Regions from separate parts of the Homo sapiens genome. Here region 2 is linked to region 1. The links come from fine-mapping of genetic effects on gene expression. A gene starts in region 1. The other region holds a variant in brackets. All regions are shown on one strand. Distances are from middle to middle.

Region 1 (8,418 bases):
ATGGAAGGGGACAGGGCATGGTCCCATCAGTTGAGGAAGGTGGCTTTGTACCCTAGAGATAAGATGGATTATTGCAGGAGACAGGATAGAACCTGGAGGAGAAACTGGGACCTTAAAGTTCTTTGATCCTTCCCAGGCTTCCAGGAAAGCCTGTTCCTGAATCAGTTGAGGCGCTGGGGGCTGTCAATACTTGTTTGTATCCCCACCACATCATCAAATACATACTGGGAGTCCTAACCGGCTGGGAGTGGGCTGGTCATTGCCCAGGTCACCTTGGCTGTCCACGCTGTACCTCACTGGTCTGGGTCTGTCTGTCTAGGTAGTGACTACATATCTATTATAAGTCCCTCCCCTCCCACAGCATAAGTAATTTCTCTTATTTTCCCCAGAACCCCTTCCCTCCCTGAGCCCTCCAATGGTCTCCCCCAACCTTCCCATTGCACCTACTTGTTGTACAGGACCACATCTGGGAGCCAGATGTGTTTGGAAGGGAGCCGAACTTTCTTCATGTTGTCAAACTCTTCAGGCTTCCAGGTGAGGCGATAATCTTCCCACTCCTGGGAAATGAGAGAGGGAGGCAGTACCAACTTGTGCCCTGGGTGGGGCTCAAGGTTAAGGAAACGAACTAGAGGGGGCCCATATGGCTTGAGGGACCTTTTAAAAGCCAGCCTCTTCCCCACAGTGACTTCTCTGCCCATCAGGTATGGCTCATGTGGTACTTTCTCATTTAATTTGCACAGCTAGGCCAAGGTACAGTATTAGAATCTACATTTACAAATGAGAAAATGAATCTTGGAGAGTTTAATATGTTTAAAGTCACAAGGCTGGTGAGTGCCAAGATTCAAATCCAATTGTTTAGGACTCCAAACTCTATACCTTTCTGCCTGTTTTGAGAGATTAAGAAAGAAAAAAGCACATGGGGAAAAAGGAGGAGAGAGAAGGCCAGGGGTGTGGGTGGAAGAGAGCACTTACGCTTACCTGGGTCAGCCAGACATTGGTGGTCATGATCTGCTCCCGCTCATGCTGCAGGGAGGAAGAGAGGCTGCCGAGAAGGCCCCTAAGCCTGTGGGGTCACTGCCACCACCCAGGGTCCCTCTCACACCTCCCCAAGCCTTGGAAACACCAGGGGAGGAAGCACACAAGCATTAACACATTTTGGCGGGGCTGATTTCAGTAGCTGGGCAGAGAGCCTGGGACCTCTACTCACCACACTGATGAGCTGGGCCAGTGACACCATAAGCTGTACTGTCACCAGCTCAGAGCCATTGGTGGCTGGGCGGATAAGCTTGTTGTAGCGGGAAGGATCCAGGAGATGCTCCACCAGCCGCTCCTCTGTATCCGTACCCCACACCCCTGGGCAGGGGAAAGGCAGGACGAAAGTAAGCAGGCAAGGAGAGCCCACCCAGCATCCCACCCTCCCCAGGCAAATGGGACAATCCAGGCCCAACCAGTATCTCCCTACATCCCTAAGGATACTGCAAAATGCTTAGATTAACCCCAGGGAGGCCCCAGATTAATGTCTTCATAGAAAAGCCCCTCTCTGAGACCACTGACCAAAGAGTCTACACAGCTCCACAGAGATGACTTGAGACTAAGAACCCACTCTGCAAGGATTCATGGAGACCTGCTCTTCCCCCAAAGTCTCAGAGGGCAGTTTGAGATTTCTGCTTCCATGGCTTCCCCAGCAAATACCTATGACTCAAGGGAGGTTTAGCAGGGCAGTGAAGGTGAACAGTTATTTGTCCCAGTTATTTGTGTCCCACCACACACATCCTTTCTCCTGCCGATTGAGGAGAAAGTGTATGTGTGGTGGGACACAAATAACTGTTCCCGTTCACCATTTACATGTGCAAATGACATTATGTGCCTCACGTAATGACATGTGACTGTGGTCACGATGCCATCCTCCCCTCTCCCTAAAGGCACTGGGTTGGAGTGGAATAGCTGGGCTGCCTAAGCTGTGGGTCAGGCATATATGTAGCCCCAAGTTTCACACACACAGCAGCCCACCCCTAGAGGTGGCCTGTAGGTGTGGAAAGCTCATTCAGTTGTGCATTCCCTTTGTACCTGCCCCTCCCCGGCACACTGCATCCCCCTCTGCAACTCTGCACGAACACACCCCTCCCCATCCCCTCAGAGAGTTCCTTCCTAGTCCTCAGCCTGGCAGAGCTTCTTCCCTTCCAAGCCTCCTGTCCCACCCTACAGGAGGGTTGAAAAGTCCGTTCCGTTTTCTCCCCTTCTCTGCCCCTGAGGGGTGACGAGAATCTGGAGCCCAATGTGGGGGATGGGAAACGATGGGGAGCCCGGGGAGGGGTGCTGGTCCAGGTACCTTTCTTGAGATAATGTTTCACAAAAAGTCAGATGGCATCTTAGCGCCCTCAGAGCCGGCCTCCTGCCACCCCAGGACGCCTGGGGAGATCCCCTGCCTCCTTGCTCTCTGTGCCTGCACCACCCCTACCACCGCTGGCCAGGTTTCCATCTCTTTCTTGCTTCACTTACTCCTTCGAGTATGTCTCGTTCCCAGTCCAGCCTCCCAGGTGCTCTCTGCAGTCCCGGGGGGCTCTCCCCTAACCTCCAGCAGACTCCCCCACCTCTAGGGAATCCCTTCTTCCACCTTCCGGCCTAGCAGGGGTGAGTCAGAGGGCGGCGAGTCTTGGGCCGTTGGCTGGGGTAGGAGAACCTGGCCAGTGCCCGTCTTTCCCTTACCTGAGCACAGCCGGAGGAGGCCGAAGCCAAGGAGCAGCGCCACGGGGCCGCAGCGCCGGGCCATGCCGCGGGCATAGCTCGCTGCCTCGCCTACACCGGCTGGAGCGCGCCGCCGGGGGGAGGGCCGCGGGTGGGGCGCTGTCCGTGGTGCTGAAGCCGCGCCCGCCTGGAGCTGGGTCCAGGTGGTGCCGGCCGCCGCGGTGGTTCCTGGGCCTCAGGGAGCCGGCTGCGAGGAGAAACCAGCTTCTTGCCTATCCTGGTATGAGCAGGCGGAGGCTTTTCCGGCTGCTCTTCCAGGGAATACAATTGGGACGGTGAGGGGGAGGAGTCTGCGCCCCGGAGGCGGAAACGCTGGGTCCCAGGAAAAAAAAGGGGGGTCCCCGGCTGGGATAGTCTTCGATTGGTTCTGCCGTGGTAGGGTGTGCGTGAGGTGGAAGAAGGGCTGTTCCTCCACGGCACGGTGGAGGAGTTCTGAAGTCCTAAAGTTGGGGCAGGACCTGCAGCATGGTCGGAGAAGGGGCAAGAGGCCCGGCGGGAAGAAGCAGCAAGAGTAAGACAAGTAGGTCAGGGCCTGCTTAGTACTGAGGGCCAGACGGCCAGAACGAGCGTCGGGAGACAGGAGGAGTGTCCGGGGTTTTCGCCCTCCTTTTTTCTCTTACCAAACCCAAATGGTCCTGCTCCCCAGGTAGGCTGAGGATACAGCAGAGAAAATGTGTTTAGCCCCTTAAAGAGATAGGGGGCTGTGGGTTTGCTATTTTTAAGAAAGCAAACGGCTTTGGAGTCTAAAAGGCTAAGCTTCCTGCCCTCCCACTGAGGGTCTACCTGAGGAGGTCTAGACTTGCCTGCAAAGAAGGTAGACTTGAGGGTAATAGTGGAAAGACAAGTAGCCCCTATTCATCGGCCTTCCTCACCCCCTTCTCTTGACTCCAGCTGTTGGCTTCTGTGTGACTAGGGAGATCAGAGACCACTCACAGAGGCCTGATCAAGAGAGAAGCTAACACAAAGGAGACCAAAGATGAGAACCCTGAACTCTTAGCCCCTTTTTTTCCTTCAGTGGGTTCGTTGTCACTTTCAACCAAAAGATTCCTGACTAAAGCAGACTTAGCATACAGCAAGGCTCTGTCCTGTTTTGTCCCTGCTTACTTCAACCTCATCTGGGTCACTCCACCCCCAGCTCCACATTCCAACTATTGGCAAGGTCTTCAGGATCCTTGAACATCTTATCCGTCCCATCATCCCCCACACTTCAGGGACTTAAATGCATGGTTCTCTTGGGCTCTTTTATAACCCATGTTCCCCTCATCACCTTCTACTTAACTTTGAGCATTTGGCAGGAATGTCAATTCCTTAAGGAAGCTGCGCCTGACCAAGAACTAGATCAGATACTTTGTTATATGTTTCCAGAGCATGTCCAATGAATAAATGAATCCACCTGAGGCAGTGGCTGCCTCTCTAGATTATGAATCAACACAGTGCCTGGCATATTATTATAAGGGCTCAACAGGTAAGGAAAAGGGCTAGTACTGGACTGACACTTTTTAATGTGTAGGGAAAATTTCTCTCTAAAAGCTCAGCTAGGGACCAGGAGAGGTGACTTAAGCCCGTAATCTCAGCACTTTCAAAGGCTGAGGCAGAAGGATCACTTGAGCCCAGGCGTTTGAAACCAGCCTGGGCAACATAATGAGATCACGTGTGTACAAAAAGTTTAAAAATTAGTCGGGCATGATGGTGTGTGCCTATAGTCCCAGCTACTCGAGAGGCTGAGGTGGGAGGATCACTTAAGCCAGGGAGGTCGGGGCTGCAGTTTGGGGCATGATGGCGCAACTGCACTCCAGCCTGGGCAATGAAGCAAGACCCCATTTCAAAAACTAAACAAATAAATAAATAAAAGCCCAGCTAAAAGCAACTTATTGACCATGTCCCCAGGTCGTGGAATTAAGGGAAGAAGCAGAAAAGTTCTAGAAGAGGACTGGAGAAGTAGAAGGACTACAGACCCCATGATGCACATGGAAATGGGCGTAAATCTGCACGACTTGTTCCGGGGCATGCGCATGTGTAAGCGCACAATAATCTCTTAAGAATTAAAGAAACCTTGTAACAAAGAAAAGTAGTGAAGAAAAGCCTTAAGGAAAAGAGAAGGAATGTGTGTAGTCCCTCTGCTTAAGGAAAAGATAGAGGGTGGGAAGATCTTCCTTCAACAATTTAGATCAACATTTGTTAGGTATATGTGGTTTGCCAGGAAACTGCATGTGTGTTGTGGACCATATGTGTTGAAGATGCAGTGATCAAAAAGACTTAGTCCCAGCTATTAAGGAGATCACAGTTTGGCAGCAAATTATTATAGAATGTGATGGCTGTTCTAACAGACATATAAAGGAAGTGCTATGGATGGAAGCACAGAGGAAGAAGAGGTTAATAGTGTCTAAGAACCTAGAAGGGATGAAGATGAAAATTGAGATTTGAAAGGTGAGAAAGTCATTAAGACAAGGATGACTTAAAGGTATTCCAAACTCCTAAGAAATACAGGGAGTTTTGGTGGATGCAGAATGATTGAGGAAGGCTGTGAAAGTCTTCTCTTAACAAAAATCTCTTTCTGTAATGGTTGCTTGTTTATGGGATGAGAAACTAGGGGGTCATTTGCTTGCTTAAAGCCTCTGGCTTCTCCTGATGCAACTTCCAGGCCAGTCTACCTTCTCTTCTCAAATCCCCCAGCTTTTGCTTCAAGTTTACTTCCAGCCTGGCAAGGAGTGAGTCTTCTGAGCACAACCACCCAGTGTCCAAGCAGGGCGGGAACACCTCCTTCCTCATCTCTCCCACACATACTCCTTCCATACCCACCAAGAAGAAAGGCAGCCAGGAAGAGTGGACAGGTCCAGAACCACAGAGGGTGATGAACAGATGCAGAAGTATCAATCCTGAGGCTAAAGAGTAATTGGGCAAAGTTTTGGTGAGACACTCCCATTGCCACTGATGATAAGGAATGTTTTCTCTTGAAAGGCTTAAAATTGGTGGAAAGCGGTGGCTCACGTCCGTAATCCAAGCACTTTGGGAGGCTGGGGCAGGTGGATGGACTGAGCTCAAGAGTTCAAGATCAGCCTGGGCAACATGGTGAAACCCTGTTTCTACAAAAAATTTAAAAATATTAGCCAGGTGTGGTGGCACGTGCTCCCAGCCTGGGCAACACCTCCCAGTACTTGGGAGGCTGAGGAGGGAGGATATCGTGAGCCGTGGAGGTGGTTGCAGTGAGCCGAGACTATGTCACTGAACTCCAGCCTGGGCAACAGAGCCAGACCCTGTCTCAAAAAAAAAAAAAAAAAAAAAGGTTGGGGGGAAAGGCTTAAAATCAATGTTATTGTCCTTTATTTAAGGCGTTTTAGGCTGAGTGTGGTGGCTCGCACCTGTAATCCTGGCACTTAGGGAGGCCAAGGCAGATCACCTGAGATCAGGAATTCAAGACCAGCCTGGCCAACGTGGTGAAACCCGGTCTCTACTGAAAAATACAAAAATTAGCCTGGTGTGGTGGCGCATGCCTGTAATCCCAGCTACTCAGGAGACTGAGGCAGGAAGAATTGCTTGAACCTGGGAGGCAGAGGTTGCAGTGAGCCGAGATTGCACCACTTCTTCACTCCCAGCCTGGGCAACAGAATGAGACGCCATCTCAAAAAAAAAAAAAAAGATGTTTTAAATTTTAAAATTTTTATTACAAAAGTAATACATGTATTCGTCATGAATACCAATTGGAAAACAAGTCAGCAAAACATAGTAAGTACAAAATGGATTCATACTCCTACCTCCCAGGAAAAAAATCAGTGTTAGCAATAATATATTTCACACACACACATACCCCTCCAAATTTATCTATATATACTCGGATATAACATTCATACAGCAAAGTATATACAAGTGTACAGCTAAATTTTCACAACATAAACACAGCCATATAGCCGCAATTTAGATTTTTTTTTTTAAAGAAACACACATAACTAATATCCAGAAGTCCCCATGATGACCCTTCCAGCAGTTACTCTCTCTTCTTCAAAAGTAACACCTTGGGGCCAGGCGTGATGGCTCACACCTGTAATCCCAGCACTTTGGGAGGCTGAGGCGGGTGGATCACAAGGTCAGGAGATCGAGACCATCCTAACACAGTGAAACCCCGTCTCTACTAAAAATATAAAAAAAATTAGCCGGGCATCGTGGCGGGCACCTGTAGCTCCAGCTACTCGGGAGGCTGAGGCAGGAGAATGGCGTGAACCCGGGAGGTGGAGCTTGCAGTGAGCCGAGATCGCACCACTGCACACTCTAGCCTGGGCGACAGAGCGAGACTCCATCTCAAAAAAAAAACACCTTGGGAGGAGGGAGGAATGGGAGGTGGTGACTACTTACCTGGAACTAGACAGTAGTAATGGTTATACAACTTGTGAATGCACTGAATGCCACTGAGTCATACACTTTAAATTAGTTAAAGTGGCAGATTTTATGTGTAATTTTACCACAATTTTAAAAAAATGACTGAAGGTAAAATAAATAACTACTGTCCTGTCTTCTAATAGCATAGATCGACTTTGCCTGTGGAACTTTTTATAAATGGAAAAATGGAATCATCATCTTCAGTGTGTGTCTGGTTTTTTTTGTTTGTTTGTTTGTTTTGAGATGGGAGTTTTGCTCTTGTTGCCCAGGCTGGAGTGCAATGGCATGATCTTGGCTCACTGCAACCTCCGCCTCCCGGGTTCAAGCAATTCTCCTGCCTCAGCCTCCTGAGTAGCTTGGATTACAGGCATGTGCCACCACACCCGGCTAATTTTTTTGCATTTTTAGTAGAGATGGGGTTTCACCATGTTGGTCAGGCTGGTCTTGAACTCCTGACCTCAGGTGATCCACCTGCCTCGGCCTTCCAAAGTGCTGGGATTACATGTGTGAGCTACCATGCCCGGCCTGTGTCTGTTTTTTTAAAAAACATGTTAGTGAGAATCGTGAACACTGCTGAATATAGTTGTAGTTCATTCATCTTCATTGCTGTGGACTATTCCATTGTATGAATACACTATCATTTATCCGTTTCACTATTGATGGATATTTTGGTTGTTTCCTATTTGGACTATTAAAAAATAATACTGCTGTGAACACTCTTGTTCATACTTTTGGTATACAAATACAGTCATGTACCATGTAATGACTTCTCAGTCAACAAGATTGCAATATACAAAGGTGGCCCCCATAAAATTATAACACTGTATTTTTGCTGTACCTTTCCTGTGTTTAGATAGATACATGAATACATATTATTGGGTTTCAACTGCCTACAGTAATTGCAGGAATTCTAGTGGGCACGGGGAATGCAGCAACTGTATTCACTACAGTATAACATGCAGTACAGGTTTGTAGCCTAGGAGCCATAGTCTAGACCCTATAGGCTAGGTGTGTAGTAGGCTACACCATCTAGGTTTGTGTAAGTACACTATGATGTTCACACAACAAAAAAACCACTGAGACACATTTCTCAGAATGTATCCCACCATTAACTGACACATGACTGTATATGCATTTCTGTTGGGTACATAACTAAATCGCATATTTTTTTTTTAATGGAGCACACTGTAACATAGCTTTGTAACCACCTTTCTTTTTTAAATCTTCAGCTCACTTCAGTCTAATCTTTTTTCATTTACTATTTCTCAAACAACTCTCCATACCAATAAGTATTTTTGATAA
Region 2 (10,502 bases), 260 kb before region 1:
TCTACAAGGACCCGGGCTATTGGTGCTTGATGGGCTTCCATCCCACCTCCATCCTCCCTGTAGGGGTGGGGAGTTACAAACCCTTCTGCTCCCATTCTGCCTTTGTATGGAGCCCAAAGGTTTAAGTCTGTATTTACCGTTCCATATTCATTTACCCAAGAAACACTTGTTAAGTGCTTGCTTTGTGTCTGCAAGAATCCTAGGTGGGCCAGCTTTTGGCTACCTTAGGAGCAGCAAGGACCAAACTGCCTTTAAAAAGGCCTCATCCTGTATGTTTCCACCTCCCGCACAGTGCCTGGCACATGGCAAACATGTAATAAAAAGTTTGATTGAATCGCATGGAATCTTTGCCAATATTGTAAGTGGGGCAGGAAAATAAATTATAAGCAAGCATGCAGTAGAGAATTCATGATATGCCAGTTCCCCTCTGCCCAGACCTTATAAAGGAAACCATCTCCTTAATTGGAATTATGTTTGTGGCCTGAAGGGGTGCCCCGTCTGACTTGATATTTTGGGAGCGTGGTCTCCTAAATGACCTTTTTCTGCCTTCCTTGGGACATCACACAATGGGAGAGCCAGGGCCTGGGGAGGATCATTTTCTCTTAATTGGTGTCCTGGTCATCATGCTGGCTTCACTAAAAATTAGTAGGCCACCCTCTGCTCAGACCTGAATGCCCTTGTTATTAACTGCATGATGTCCCTCAGACATCAGGTTCCGTCTCCTTCTGGGAGTGGCAACGTAGAGATCCAGGGAAATGCTCCAGGGCAACTTGACTTTATGAGTTTTGTGTCGAGACCACTGGCTTCCTTCACGCCACAAGTATTATCTGCCTAGTTTCCCCGTGCCGGGCCCAGTCTGCAGAGACGGTGAAGACCCCAAGCCCTGAGCTCAGTCTGTTCACCATCTATCACACCACTAAAGCCACACAACTGGGGGCTTCTTCAGAGAGCAGGTGGGACCGGTAAGGGCAGGGCCTGCAAGGGTGATGTTCTGGCAATTGCCATCCTGTCTTCCTGAGGTTCCCTCTGGATCAGTGGTGAGAGCACAGGTTTGAATCTAGCCCCCACCTCTTCCTCATCCAGGGACGGTGGGAATGTGACCCTCTCCAGGCTTCAGATCCCTCATCTCTAGAATGGGGCCATGGGTTGTTCTGAGGACCTAACGAAATTAGCACAGTACCTGGCCTCTGGTAAGTGAATAATAAATGTTAGCTGTTACTTTCATCACCTCTCTTTAGTTTTGATGAATTTGGAAATTCAGGATGGAAGTGTCTACCTGCTTGACATATCTCAAAAATTTTGCTCCCTTCCTTCAAATATTCAACGTTCAACTAATATTTATTGACTTACTATGTGCCAGACCAGTGTTCTAGGCATGGGGCTCTAGGAGTGAACAAATGCAATGTAAAAATTCCCTGCCCTCTGGGGTTGACACTCTGGTGGGGGTGTGAGAACAACATCAGTGGGAAAATGGGGTCAGATGGTGAAAGGTGCTCTGGTCACCCCAGCTGGGCAGTGCCAATGGGAGACACCAGGCATGGCCAGCCTCGGGAAGGGTGTGGGGCCCAGGGCAGACCAGCGGGGTTCCTGGTGCTGAGGTTACCCTGTGTACTATTAAAGCAGGTAATGGCTCCCAGCTTCGATGGTGGGTATATGGACCCCGTTCAGGGATGGGGGCTGAGGAGGGCACAGGAGGACTGAAGACAGGGCTCTGAGGAGCCACCTGCTCTCGGGTCTAGGTCAGACCCCGCATCCTGATGCGGGTCAGCTGGCTCATGATGCCTGGCTGGCTCCTGGGACTGAGAGGAGAGTGTGGATGGTCTTGTCTCAGCTTTCCGCCCACTGGGGATCCACCTCAAGCATCCCCTGGCTGTGGGGTTGAGGGGTGGGCCCAGAACAGAAGCTTCATGTAAGAAGGTGACTGGGCTGGAGAAAAGGTGGCAGTGAGGTTTAGCCCCATCTCCAGCCCCTGGGACCTGTGGTAAAGATGTCCTCACCCACACAGTGGGCTCAGGCAGGCAGGAAAGGTTCCTGGAGCTTGGCCTCTAATATCCATTCTTGAGCTCTGCCGTGGAGAGAGCTGGTCACTCGAGCGCAAAGGAACCACTTGTGGGTTTTCTCCCTCAGCCTGGGCTTCCTGCCCATTCCTGGCTGTCCCAGCCTGATGTGTCCTCCAGGGCCCCCTGACCTGACCCTTGGCCCATCTCTTCTTGACCTTGCACTGTGGGCAGGACAGAGAGGCCAGGGAGAGTGTCCAAGAGGGACAGGATGGGATGTCAAGGTGACGGGGCGATGATGGTGCAGAGGGCAGCCCTTGGGATGAGCTCCTGGGAGCTCCTGGATGGGATTCAGGCTCAGCAGGTTGGGGTTGGAGCGGGTGGGGAATCCCTGGCATTTGGCAATTGCCCAGCACAGTGCCTGGGCATGGTAAGTGCTCAGTGAATATATGTTGTATGAATGCACAAGTGAATGAATGTTTGGCTATGCGGATTGCAAAGGTGTCTTTCTGAAATGCCTCAGGGATATCTTTATAAATTATTGCAGCCATAAAATGCTGATATTGGGGGTGCAGTGAGCAGCTCCGGACTGAGGATCAGCTGCATTTACCTGCACTGACATCTGTATGGCAAGAGAAGGGGTGTTTGACTACAAGGGAATGCATGCTTCTCTTTGTGTGAAAACAGAATGAGATTTTTCGTATGCATGATCTCATCTCATCCCCTAACAGCTGTGAGAAAAGTAAGGGTAGTTCTTGTTTGCAGAGAAGAAACCAGAGGCCCAGAGAGGTTAAAGGACCGATCCAGTGTCACACAGCTAGTTAGTAGCAAAGACATGACTTGAACTCTGGCCTTTTGGTTTCAAATCCTATGTTATTTAGAAAGAGACAAGGAACATCTTCGTTAGCCCCCCCATGACTAAAAATAGGAAGCTTGCCTTGTTGTGTTTGAGGAGAAGATGGTGTGAGTGGGTTTTGTGGCTGACCGTTTCACACCCAACATTTCATCACAGAAATGCCTGGGAAAAGAAAACTCCTAAGAAAAAAAAAAAAAGGAATGAGTGTTGGACATGTCCCTATGACCTGTTTGTCATGGCATGTGTGCTCGGCGCCTTGGTCATCAGGCTTAACTGAACTTCGGAGAAGGTTCTGTCCAGGAGTCTCATTTTACTGGGGGCTGAGGCTTAGGAGAAGGAAGCAACTTGTCCAGGCCAGGCATTCACTATGGAGGAGGCTGAGACTCCTGCGCCCTCGGATGCACACCCTGGGCCTCTGTTCCAGAGCTGTCTTGGCTAGCAAGTATCAGGCCCTTCTCCCTTCTCAGGCTGGTCAGAGGTCCAGCTGCCCTCTGGAGTCCCCAGAGTCTCCCTTCCCACTGTGACAGCATCGGCTGTCTCTCCCGGTCTCAGGTTGGACAGTCCTGGGAGAGAGAGGGTCTGAGTGACTTCATTCTGTCACTTCATTCATTAGTGACTGAAACAGGATTCTGTTAGCTGACTTCTGGTAGGAGCCAGGTTGGGAAGCCGCTCTGAGGATGCTGGGAGGGCCAACAGCTGCAATTATTATTATTATTGTTGTTGTTATTATTATTATTATTATTGAGACAGAGTCTTGCTCTGTCTCCCAGGCTGGAGTGCAGTGGTGTGATCTCGGTTCACTGCAACTTCTGCCTCCTGGGTTCAAGCCATTCTCCTGCCTCAGCCTCCTGAGAAGCTGAGACTACAGGCTTGCACCACCATGCCCAGCTAATTTTTGTATTTTTAGTAGAGATGGGGTTTCACCATGATGGCCAGGCCGGTCTTGAGCTCCCGACCTCAAGTGATCCACCTGCCTTGGCCTCCCAAAGTGTTGGACTTACAGGCGTGAGCCACCACGCCTGGGCTTGCAATTAAATTAGGGTGCTGCACCTGGGAGGAGGAGGCTGTGCTAAGATAGGAGCTGAGGATGATGGGTAAGAATGAAAGATCCCAAGAACTGGACAGTGTGAGATTGAGGAATGAGGAAGGCCAGGGCTTGGTGCTGATGTGGAGGGAAAGAAGCCTCAGGTCTCCATGGAGAACAGCGACCAGTGATGCGGTCTTCCCTTTAGCGGAAGAGGGGCTGGTTTAATTTGCATAGCATTAATTAGCAAGAGTATCTAATTAGGACAACCATTACAGAACCACAGTCATAAGCCGATGTTGAATATCAATCAATTTTGGAGCCTCTCCATGAAATTGAAGGAAAAGTTGACCTTATTAGATAGAAAAGATTTCTAAATCAATTATTTCCCAGATTGAATGCACAAAACATAGTGATGTCAGGCAGGCACATCAGACCTTAATTCAGAAATTATGAACTTCAGATACTATCACCTTTTCCCTTTGGGGGTTTCAGCCAGTGACAGAAATCGTGAATGGACCACATATGTGTATAAACACACACACACACAACCATACACATATACTCTTTGTGGGTAACAGCTTGGTTGGGGAAGGAGCCTGCGCATCATTATCTCAGTTAAGCTAATATTTCAGTTTGGTTCAGTGCCCCTCCAGGTCTCTGTCTGTAAGCATAGCTTTCTCCTTTTTGCGATGACCCAAACAATAAAATACATTTAGAACTT[C/G]AAAGTCTCTGGGAAGATATACCATAATCATTACAGTTCTGGCCTGTTTTTGGAAGCTACAAGGCAGGCCAGGAGAGCAATTTATGTGGCTGGCTCAGAAGCTGGGGAACACACTCCATCACCCTCTGCACAGCCTCAGGGGAGGAAAGGCTGGAACAGCTCTAAGAAGCCTCGCTGCAGATATTGGAGGGCCAGCAAGGCGTGGCCGCCAGAGCAGGTGGGGTGCTGGGACACAGGCGGGGCAATGGAACCTGGAGGCAGACAGATCTGGGTGTAAAACCTGGCTTTTGCAAATCCTGGCTTTGCCATGGTGAGAAGTTAGGTAACATGCCCTTGGACAAGTTACCTAACTTCTGAGAGCTTAAGCTTTCTCCTCTGTAAGAGTGGGTTGACAATGCCATCCTTGCATGGTAGGCCCCTATAGATGTGCTTTATTACAGATTATTGTCATCAATGAGAAATCACAGATCTGTGAAGGGCTGGCTCGTGGCCTGGAGCAGAACAGGGACCACATGGATGGAGGCAGCTCTTAGGAATTCTATTGACATATTTTCAGTCTTTTTCTACACTAAAAAAGCTTAAAAATGAAATAATTGGAAATATACTACATATCGTTTTGGGGTCTGAGTTTATCACTTAATAGTCTATCATCAACCATTCTCCATGTCTTCAGATATTGTCTGCAGAAGTGTTTTTTGGTTTTTTTTGTTTTTGTTTTTGTTTTTGTTTTTGTTTTTGTTTTTTTTTAAGATGGAGTCTCGCTCTTCACCCAGGCTGGAGTGCAGTGGCACTGTCTCGGCTCACTGCAAGCTCCGCCTCCCGGGTTCATGCCGTTCTCCTGCCTCAGTCTCCCGAGTAGCTGGGACTACAGGCGCCTGCCACCACGTCCCGCTAATTTTTTGTGTTTTTAGTAGAGATGAGGTTTCACTGTGTTAGCCAGGATGGTCTCGATCTCCTGACCTCGTGATCTGCCCACCTCGGCCTCCCAAAGTGCTGGGATTACGGCCGTGTGCAGAAGTGTTTTTAGTGGCTGCGTAGTGTTCCATCACTGCCTGATCTCAAATCTACTTAACCACTTGAAAATTTGTGGGCATTTAGGAATAAATGACTTTAAAACATGACTCTCAGCTGGGCGCGGTGGCTCACGCCTGTAATCCCAGCACTTTGGGAGGCCGAGGCGGGTGGATCACTTGAGGCCAGGAGATCGAGACCATCCTGGCTAACACGGTGAAACCCCATCTCTACTAAAAATACAAAAAAATTAGCCGGGTGTAGTGGCGGGCGCCTGTAGTCCCAGCTGCTGGGGAGACTGAGGCAGGAGAATGGCATGAACCCGGCAGGCAGAGCTTGCAGTGAGCTGAGATCGTGCCACTGCACTCCAGTCTGGGAGACAGAGCAAGACTCTGTCTCAAAAAAAAAAAAAAAAAAATGATTCTCATCAAATGGGATATAATTCCTAAGCATTCCTGTGTGTTAAGGATTGTTACTCTGTGTTGAAAAGTTCTGAGTCACGGGGCAGAAGGGTTGACCAGTTGACCGCTGGATTCCCTCTGTTCTACAAGCCCCTTATTGGTCCTCAGATAGGAGTGAGTGGGGGCAATGCGTGTGGCAGGTACCCTATCCTGGGATGTATGGCAGCCCGGTGTCACTGCCATCCCCCAAGGAACCATATCAATTTCAAGCTTCACTGATGTTCAGGCAGCAAAGAGAAGATGCTAATTCAACATTTTACCAAATAGAAAACATTCCTAGTTCAGCCAGACTTCTTTGACATGTTTTCCAGCTATTAAAAGCGGTTGGTTAATTTTTTTTATTGACATGCGATGGAGAATGCAAAGAAATCTGTAAGATATCGAGAGTCCCTGTTGATCCAGCACACAGCTTGGTCATCCCACAGGGCTGGAGCTGGCCAGGGAGGTTGTACTGGCCAAAACCAAGAAGCAGGTGGGAGTTGCCTGTTCATGTAAAGGTTTTGAGCTTTAGGACAAAAGGAAGAGGCCCAAAGGAGAGAGCATCTGGCCCCTTTCCCTTCACTGCTTCCTTTAAAATGATGGAAATAGACTTGGATTCTGATGTCAATTCATTGCTGCCAAAAGAAATAAATAAGGGGCTGAAATGTGCAGCTGATCCCAAATCCTTCCCGGGGAGGTGTGATGCTCCCAGATGCTTTCAGACCCCTTTGAAAAGAAAGTTATGGTCATTTCTGGATGGAAAACATTGTGAGCTGTCCCCAGTTGATCCCCAGTTGATTGATGTAGGGAGGTTTGTTTTACCCTAATACAGTCTGAGTGTTCCTGAATTCACCATTTGCTCTTTTCAGCCCCATCTGGGTCTTGTGGTTGGGTAGCATTTCAGGCACCAGGAAGTGCTTGTGAAGATCAAAATATTTTTGAGGGCCAGCACTGTGTTCTGTCCTTCTCTGTGCTTATGTTGGACCAGAACAGCACCAGCCCTCCTTAGGCCCCCATACATGTGTGCTGAGTAAATGATTGCAGGCTGCTCTTATGGAACTGTGGAACATGAAGAGGCTAAAAGAAGACTGGCTTATGTGTAGATCATCTTATGCATAGCAAATAATGGAGACCTTTTCCCATAGTTGGACGACCCCATGCAATGTAGAAAGTCAGAGTTAGTGAATAAGCCAGATCAGAAGCTTCTGGTGTATATCACTGTATATATAGAATCTAGCACACTGTTGGATATCTAGCAAGTGCTCAGCAAATGAGAAGTGGTTGAAATTTTTGTGAAAGAGTGAATGAATTAGTTACTTTATTAGTTTTCTTTGTATCTCCAGTGGGCCTCAAGAACTGTACCAATTAAATGAATGGGGAGATTAATAGACATCAGGGAGAGCACTTTCATTCCATCTCAGCACACAGAGTGGGGCCGAGAGCATGGACCTGGGCACTTGGAAGTCCTGGGTTCGAGTCCCAAGCCCTCCTCTCATTCTTGTGGTTGCCATATTGGACATACCGCCTCACCCCACAGATCTCAGCTGCTCCTCACATCTGCCTCTGAAAGCTGTCTCTGACCCATCCACAGTGGCCTCCCTCCTTTGAGCTCCCCTAGCTCTACTGTAGGTTTCACTCTGGCAATTGATCATACTCTACCTTACCTTGTTGTCTTAAGATGTCATTTAGGTCTATTTAAATGGATGCTTCCCATGTTTCTAAGTTGTTTCCCATTGGAGAGTGTGCCTGAGGGCTTGTGGGCAGTGCTCTGTACTGCGAGTCAGAGGCCTTGACTTTGAATTCTGGCACAAGCCACCCACCCTCCTCTGGGCCTCAGCCTGTAATATCTATAAGGTAAAAGGCCGAGGGCTGTTGTGAGGATGGATGAGAACAAATACGTGAAACCACCTTGTAAACTGTAAGGTGCCTTCCAGAAATCAGGCATCATTCTTCTAATGACCAGCTCCCTGAGGAAGGGAATGTTTCTTTTGTGGCGTGCACCACTCAGGACCAAGTGCAGGGCCGCCATACACACAGTCACTGCTTGGAAATGCTTCCTGGATCTCATCTGCTGCCTTTGCTCAGGGCTGTGTTCCCGCCTTCCTTTGGAACTAGGAGCTATCTCTACTTCCAGCTTCGAAATGCCCAGAGGTGCACCAAGTTCCAACCCAGACACCCTGATTTGTAGAGGATGCAAAGTAAATGATAAGGGTAGTTAACACTTACTTGGCCAGGCACTGTTCTGGGCACTTTGCATACATTAACTCCTTTATTTTCACAACAGCCCTGTGAGGTAGTCCAGAATATTATCTCCATCTGACACAGGAGGCATGCTGGTGCAGAGAGGTGGAGTGGGCGTTCCAAGGTCAGGTAGCCCTAAATGGCTGTCGCAGGGCTGGGACCCAGCAGTCTGGCCCCGGAGGTCATGCCCTTAACCACACTTCTCGGTTTCTCTAAGCTGCCCTGGGACTGAAAGGCTGCAGTGGAGGCCACGGGGCTCACCTCCCCCACCTAATCCCTAGCAGGAGGGACCATCAGGGTACTTCTCCTGCCAGGACCCCTCTCTGCTCCTGTGCTTCCTGGCTTCTCTCTCCAGTAGCTCCTCTGCCGTCCCTGCCTCCCTCCCCTGCCCTTGGCCTAAGCCAGGAGATGAGAGCAGCTGCCGGGACATTCAAATTCATTCCTGAAAGAATTCTGCCTCCGAAATCCTCTGGTTTGGGTTTAAGAGAAAACAGAGGCCCAAGCTGGCGTAATATTGATGCCCAAACCATGTAATAGCGGCACAACAAAGAATGACGTTCATATGAGTTATGAGCATGGAAGCACAAATTCTAAATAACACATCAGCAAACTGAATCTAGCCGTGTATAACAAACATAATACATCATGCCCAAGTAGCGTTCATCCCAGGAATGCAAATACGACTTAGCCCGAGAAAACAGAGGCTCAAAGGGGGCAGCTGCTGAGACAGAGCCGGCCCGGGCACAGCCCAAGGCTTTTGTGGGGCTCAGGCTGACTTTGTGCTACACCTGCTCCTAGGAGGGGCTGGTAACAGTCCCTCCTGTGTCCCCACCCCTTCTCTTTTACACAGCCGCAGAATAAAGTGAGACGCTCCTTTCCCCGCACTCCCTAATTCTCTCTCTCCATTGTTCCTGCAGGACTCCATGTTTTCGTTGGCCCTGAAATGCCTTATCAGTCTGTCCACCATCATCCTTTTGGGCTTGATCATCGCCTACCACACACGTGAAGTCCAGGTAGGTGCCCCCACCTCACCCCTTCATGCAGCGGCTGATCCTTTGGCCTTGCTCTGAGCCGAGCCCATCCCCACCCCCAAAACCCACTCCCTTAGCAGCTACTTGGGTGATTTTACAAGACGGTGCCCAAGATCGTGGCTCTTCTCTTCTGGTTTGGACCCAAATGGGAGAGGAAACTGCGAGGCCGCCCTGTGGCTTTCGAATAACTGTTAAGTTGTCTTCAAAGTGGGGATCCCAGAGGCAAACATAGGGCTTCATGTTGAGCGAGGCTGCCGTATTCGGGACCCTCACTGAGCACCATCGGACCGGGAGAGCCCCTGATGCATTGCTCTGCCTTTTGTGTCTCTTGTCCTTTCTGAACTTGGGCCACTCAGTTCATCCCTTCAGTGAGGCAGACCTGCCTTGTGTACCCCCACATATGCTGCACCAAACTCCACCAAGGAGTCTGCTTTTTGTGAATGGTGTGGTCTTCACCCTTGTGGGTCTAGGCTGGGGGTGTCATTTTCTAGACAGAGTAAGAGTCTGCTGTGGCCGAGAAGGCCTCTGTTTCTTGCTGCCCAGGAGTGACTTGGTACCCAGAGAAACATTGGCTGGGCCTCCAGGGTGCACTTCCAGTTTGGCTGACATAGGGAGGATGGTTCAACCCGGGCCAGGAGGGTCAGACAGGAGAGAACAGATCTGAAGCATCTTCTGGTGACAATGAGCTTCCCCCAGCCCCCGGCCCTTCAGGCTGACCTGCACTGCTGTGGACCTGAGAAGTTCTAAACTATCCAGATGTTTTTCCTCATGTGCATGTGAATCTGGAAACCATCCCGGTCCTTTGGCTGGAGGAGCACAGATAGATTCACATCTGGGCAGCAGGCGAGAGATTGACGAAGACCAGAGCTCAGAGTCAGAAAAACTGGGGTCAAGTCTCGGCCATGACCTTTTTTCTTGGTGTGTCTTTGGCCAGCCCTGTGACCTTCCTGGGTCTCGATCTTCTCATCTAGAACATGGGGCCTTTATTCCAGCTCTGCTGAGCTGTTGTGAGGATGGGATGAGGAGCGCATGGGAGAGTGCTTTGTGAAGCGCTATTTAACAACACCGTTCAAATCCAGTCCCATTTGTTACTCGGCATTTTCAGGGTGGAGCAGCAGTGCGGACGCAGGTGGGAGTGCCTCCTCCTCTTAGAGAGCCTTGGCTTTTTGTCTGAAGGT

Evidence for each region.
Region 2: its variant is fine-mapped to the expression of CHRNB2 in cerebellar hemisphere (GTEx, PIP 0.99).

Annotation. Positions count from the first base shown.
Region 1 is chr1:154,562,397-154,570,814 of GRCh38, reverse strand. It overlaps CHRNB2 (cholinergic receptor nicotinic beta 2 subunit), which reads right to left and starts at 3,037. Exons shown (of 6, transcript NM_000748.3): 1 at 2,707-3,037; 2 at 1,208-1,353; 3 at 979-1,023; 4 at 448-557. The coding sequence starts at 2,770. It overlaps LOC107985206 (a long non-coding RNA gene), which reads left to right and starts at 3,098. Exons shown (of 2, transcript XR_001738238.3): 1 at 3,098-3,391; 2 at 4,633-6,027. RefSeq lists a silencer at 2,737-2,866.
Region 2 is chr1:154,820,893-154,831,394 of GRCh38, reverse strand. It overlaps KCNN3 (potassium calcium-activated channel subfamily N member 3), which reads left to right. Exons shown (of 8, transcript NM_002249.6): 2 at 9,211-9,306. Among named protein-coding and RNA genes, the nearest start is that of KCNN3, 44 kb to the left of the region's middle. The variant C/G (reference allele first, on the strand shown) is at 4,602.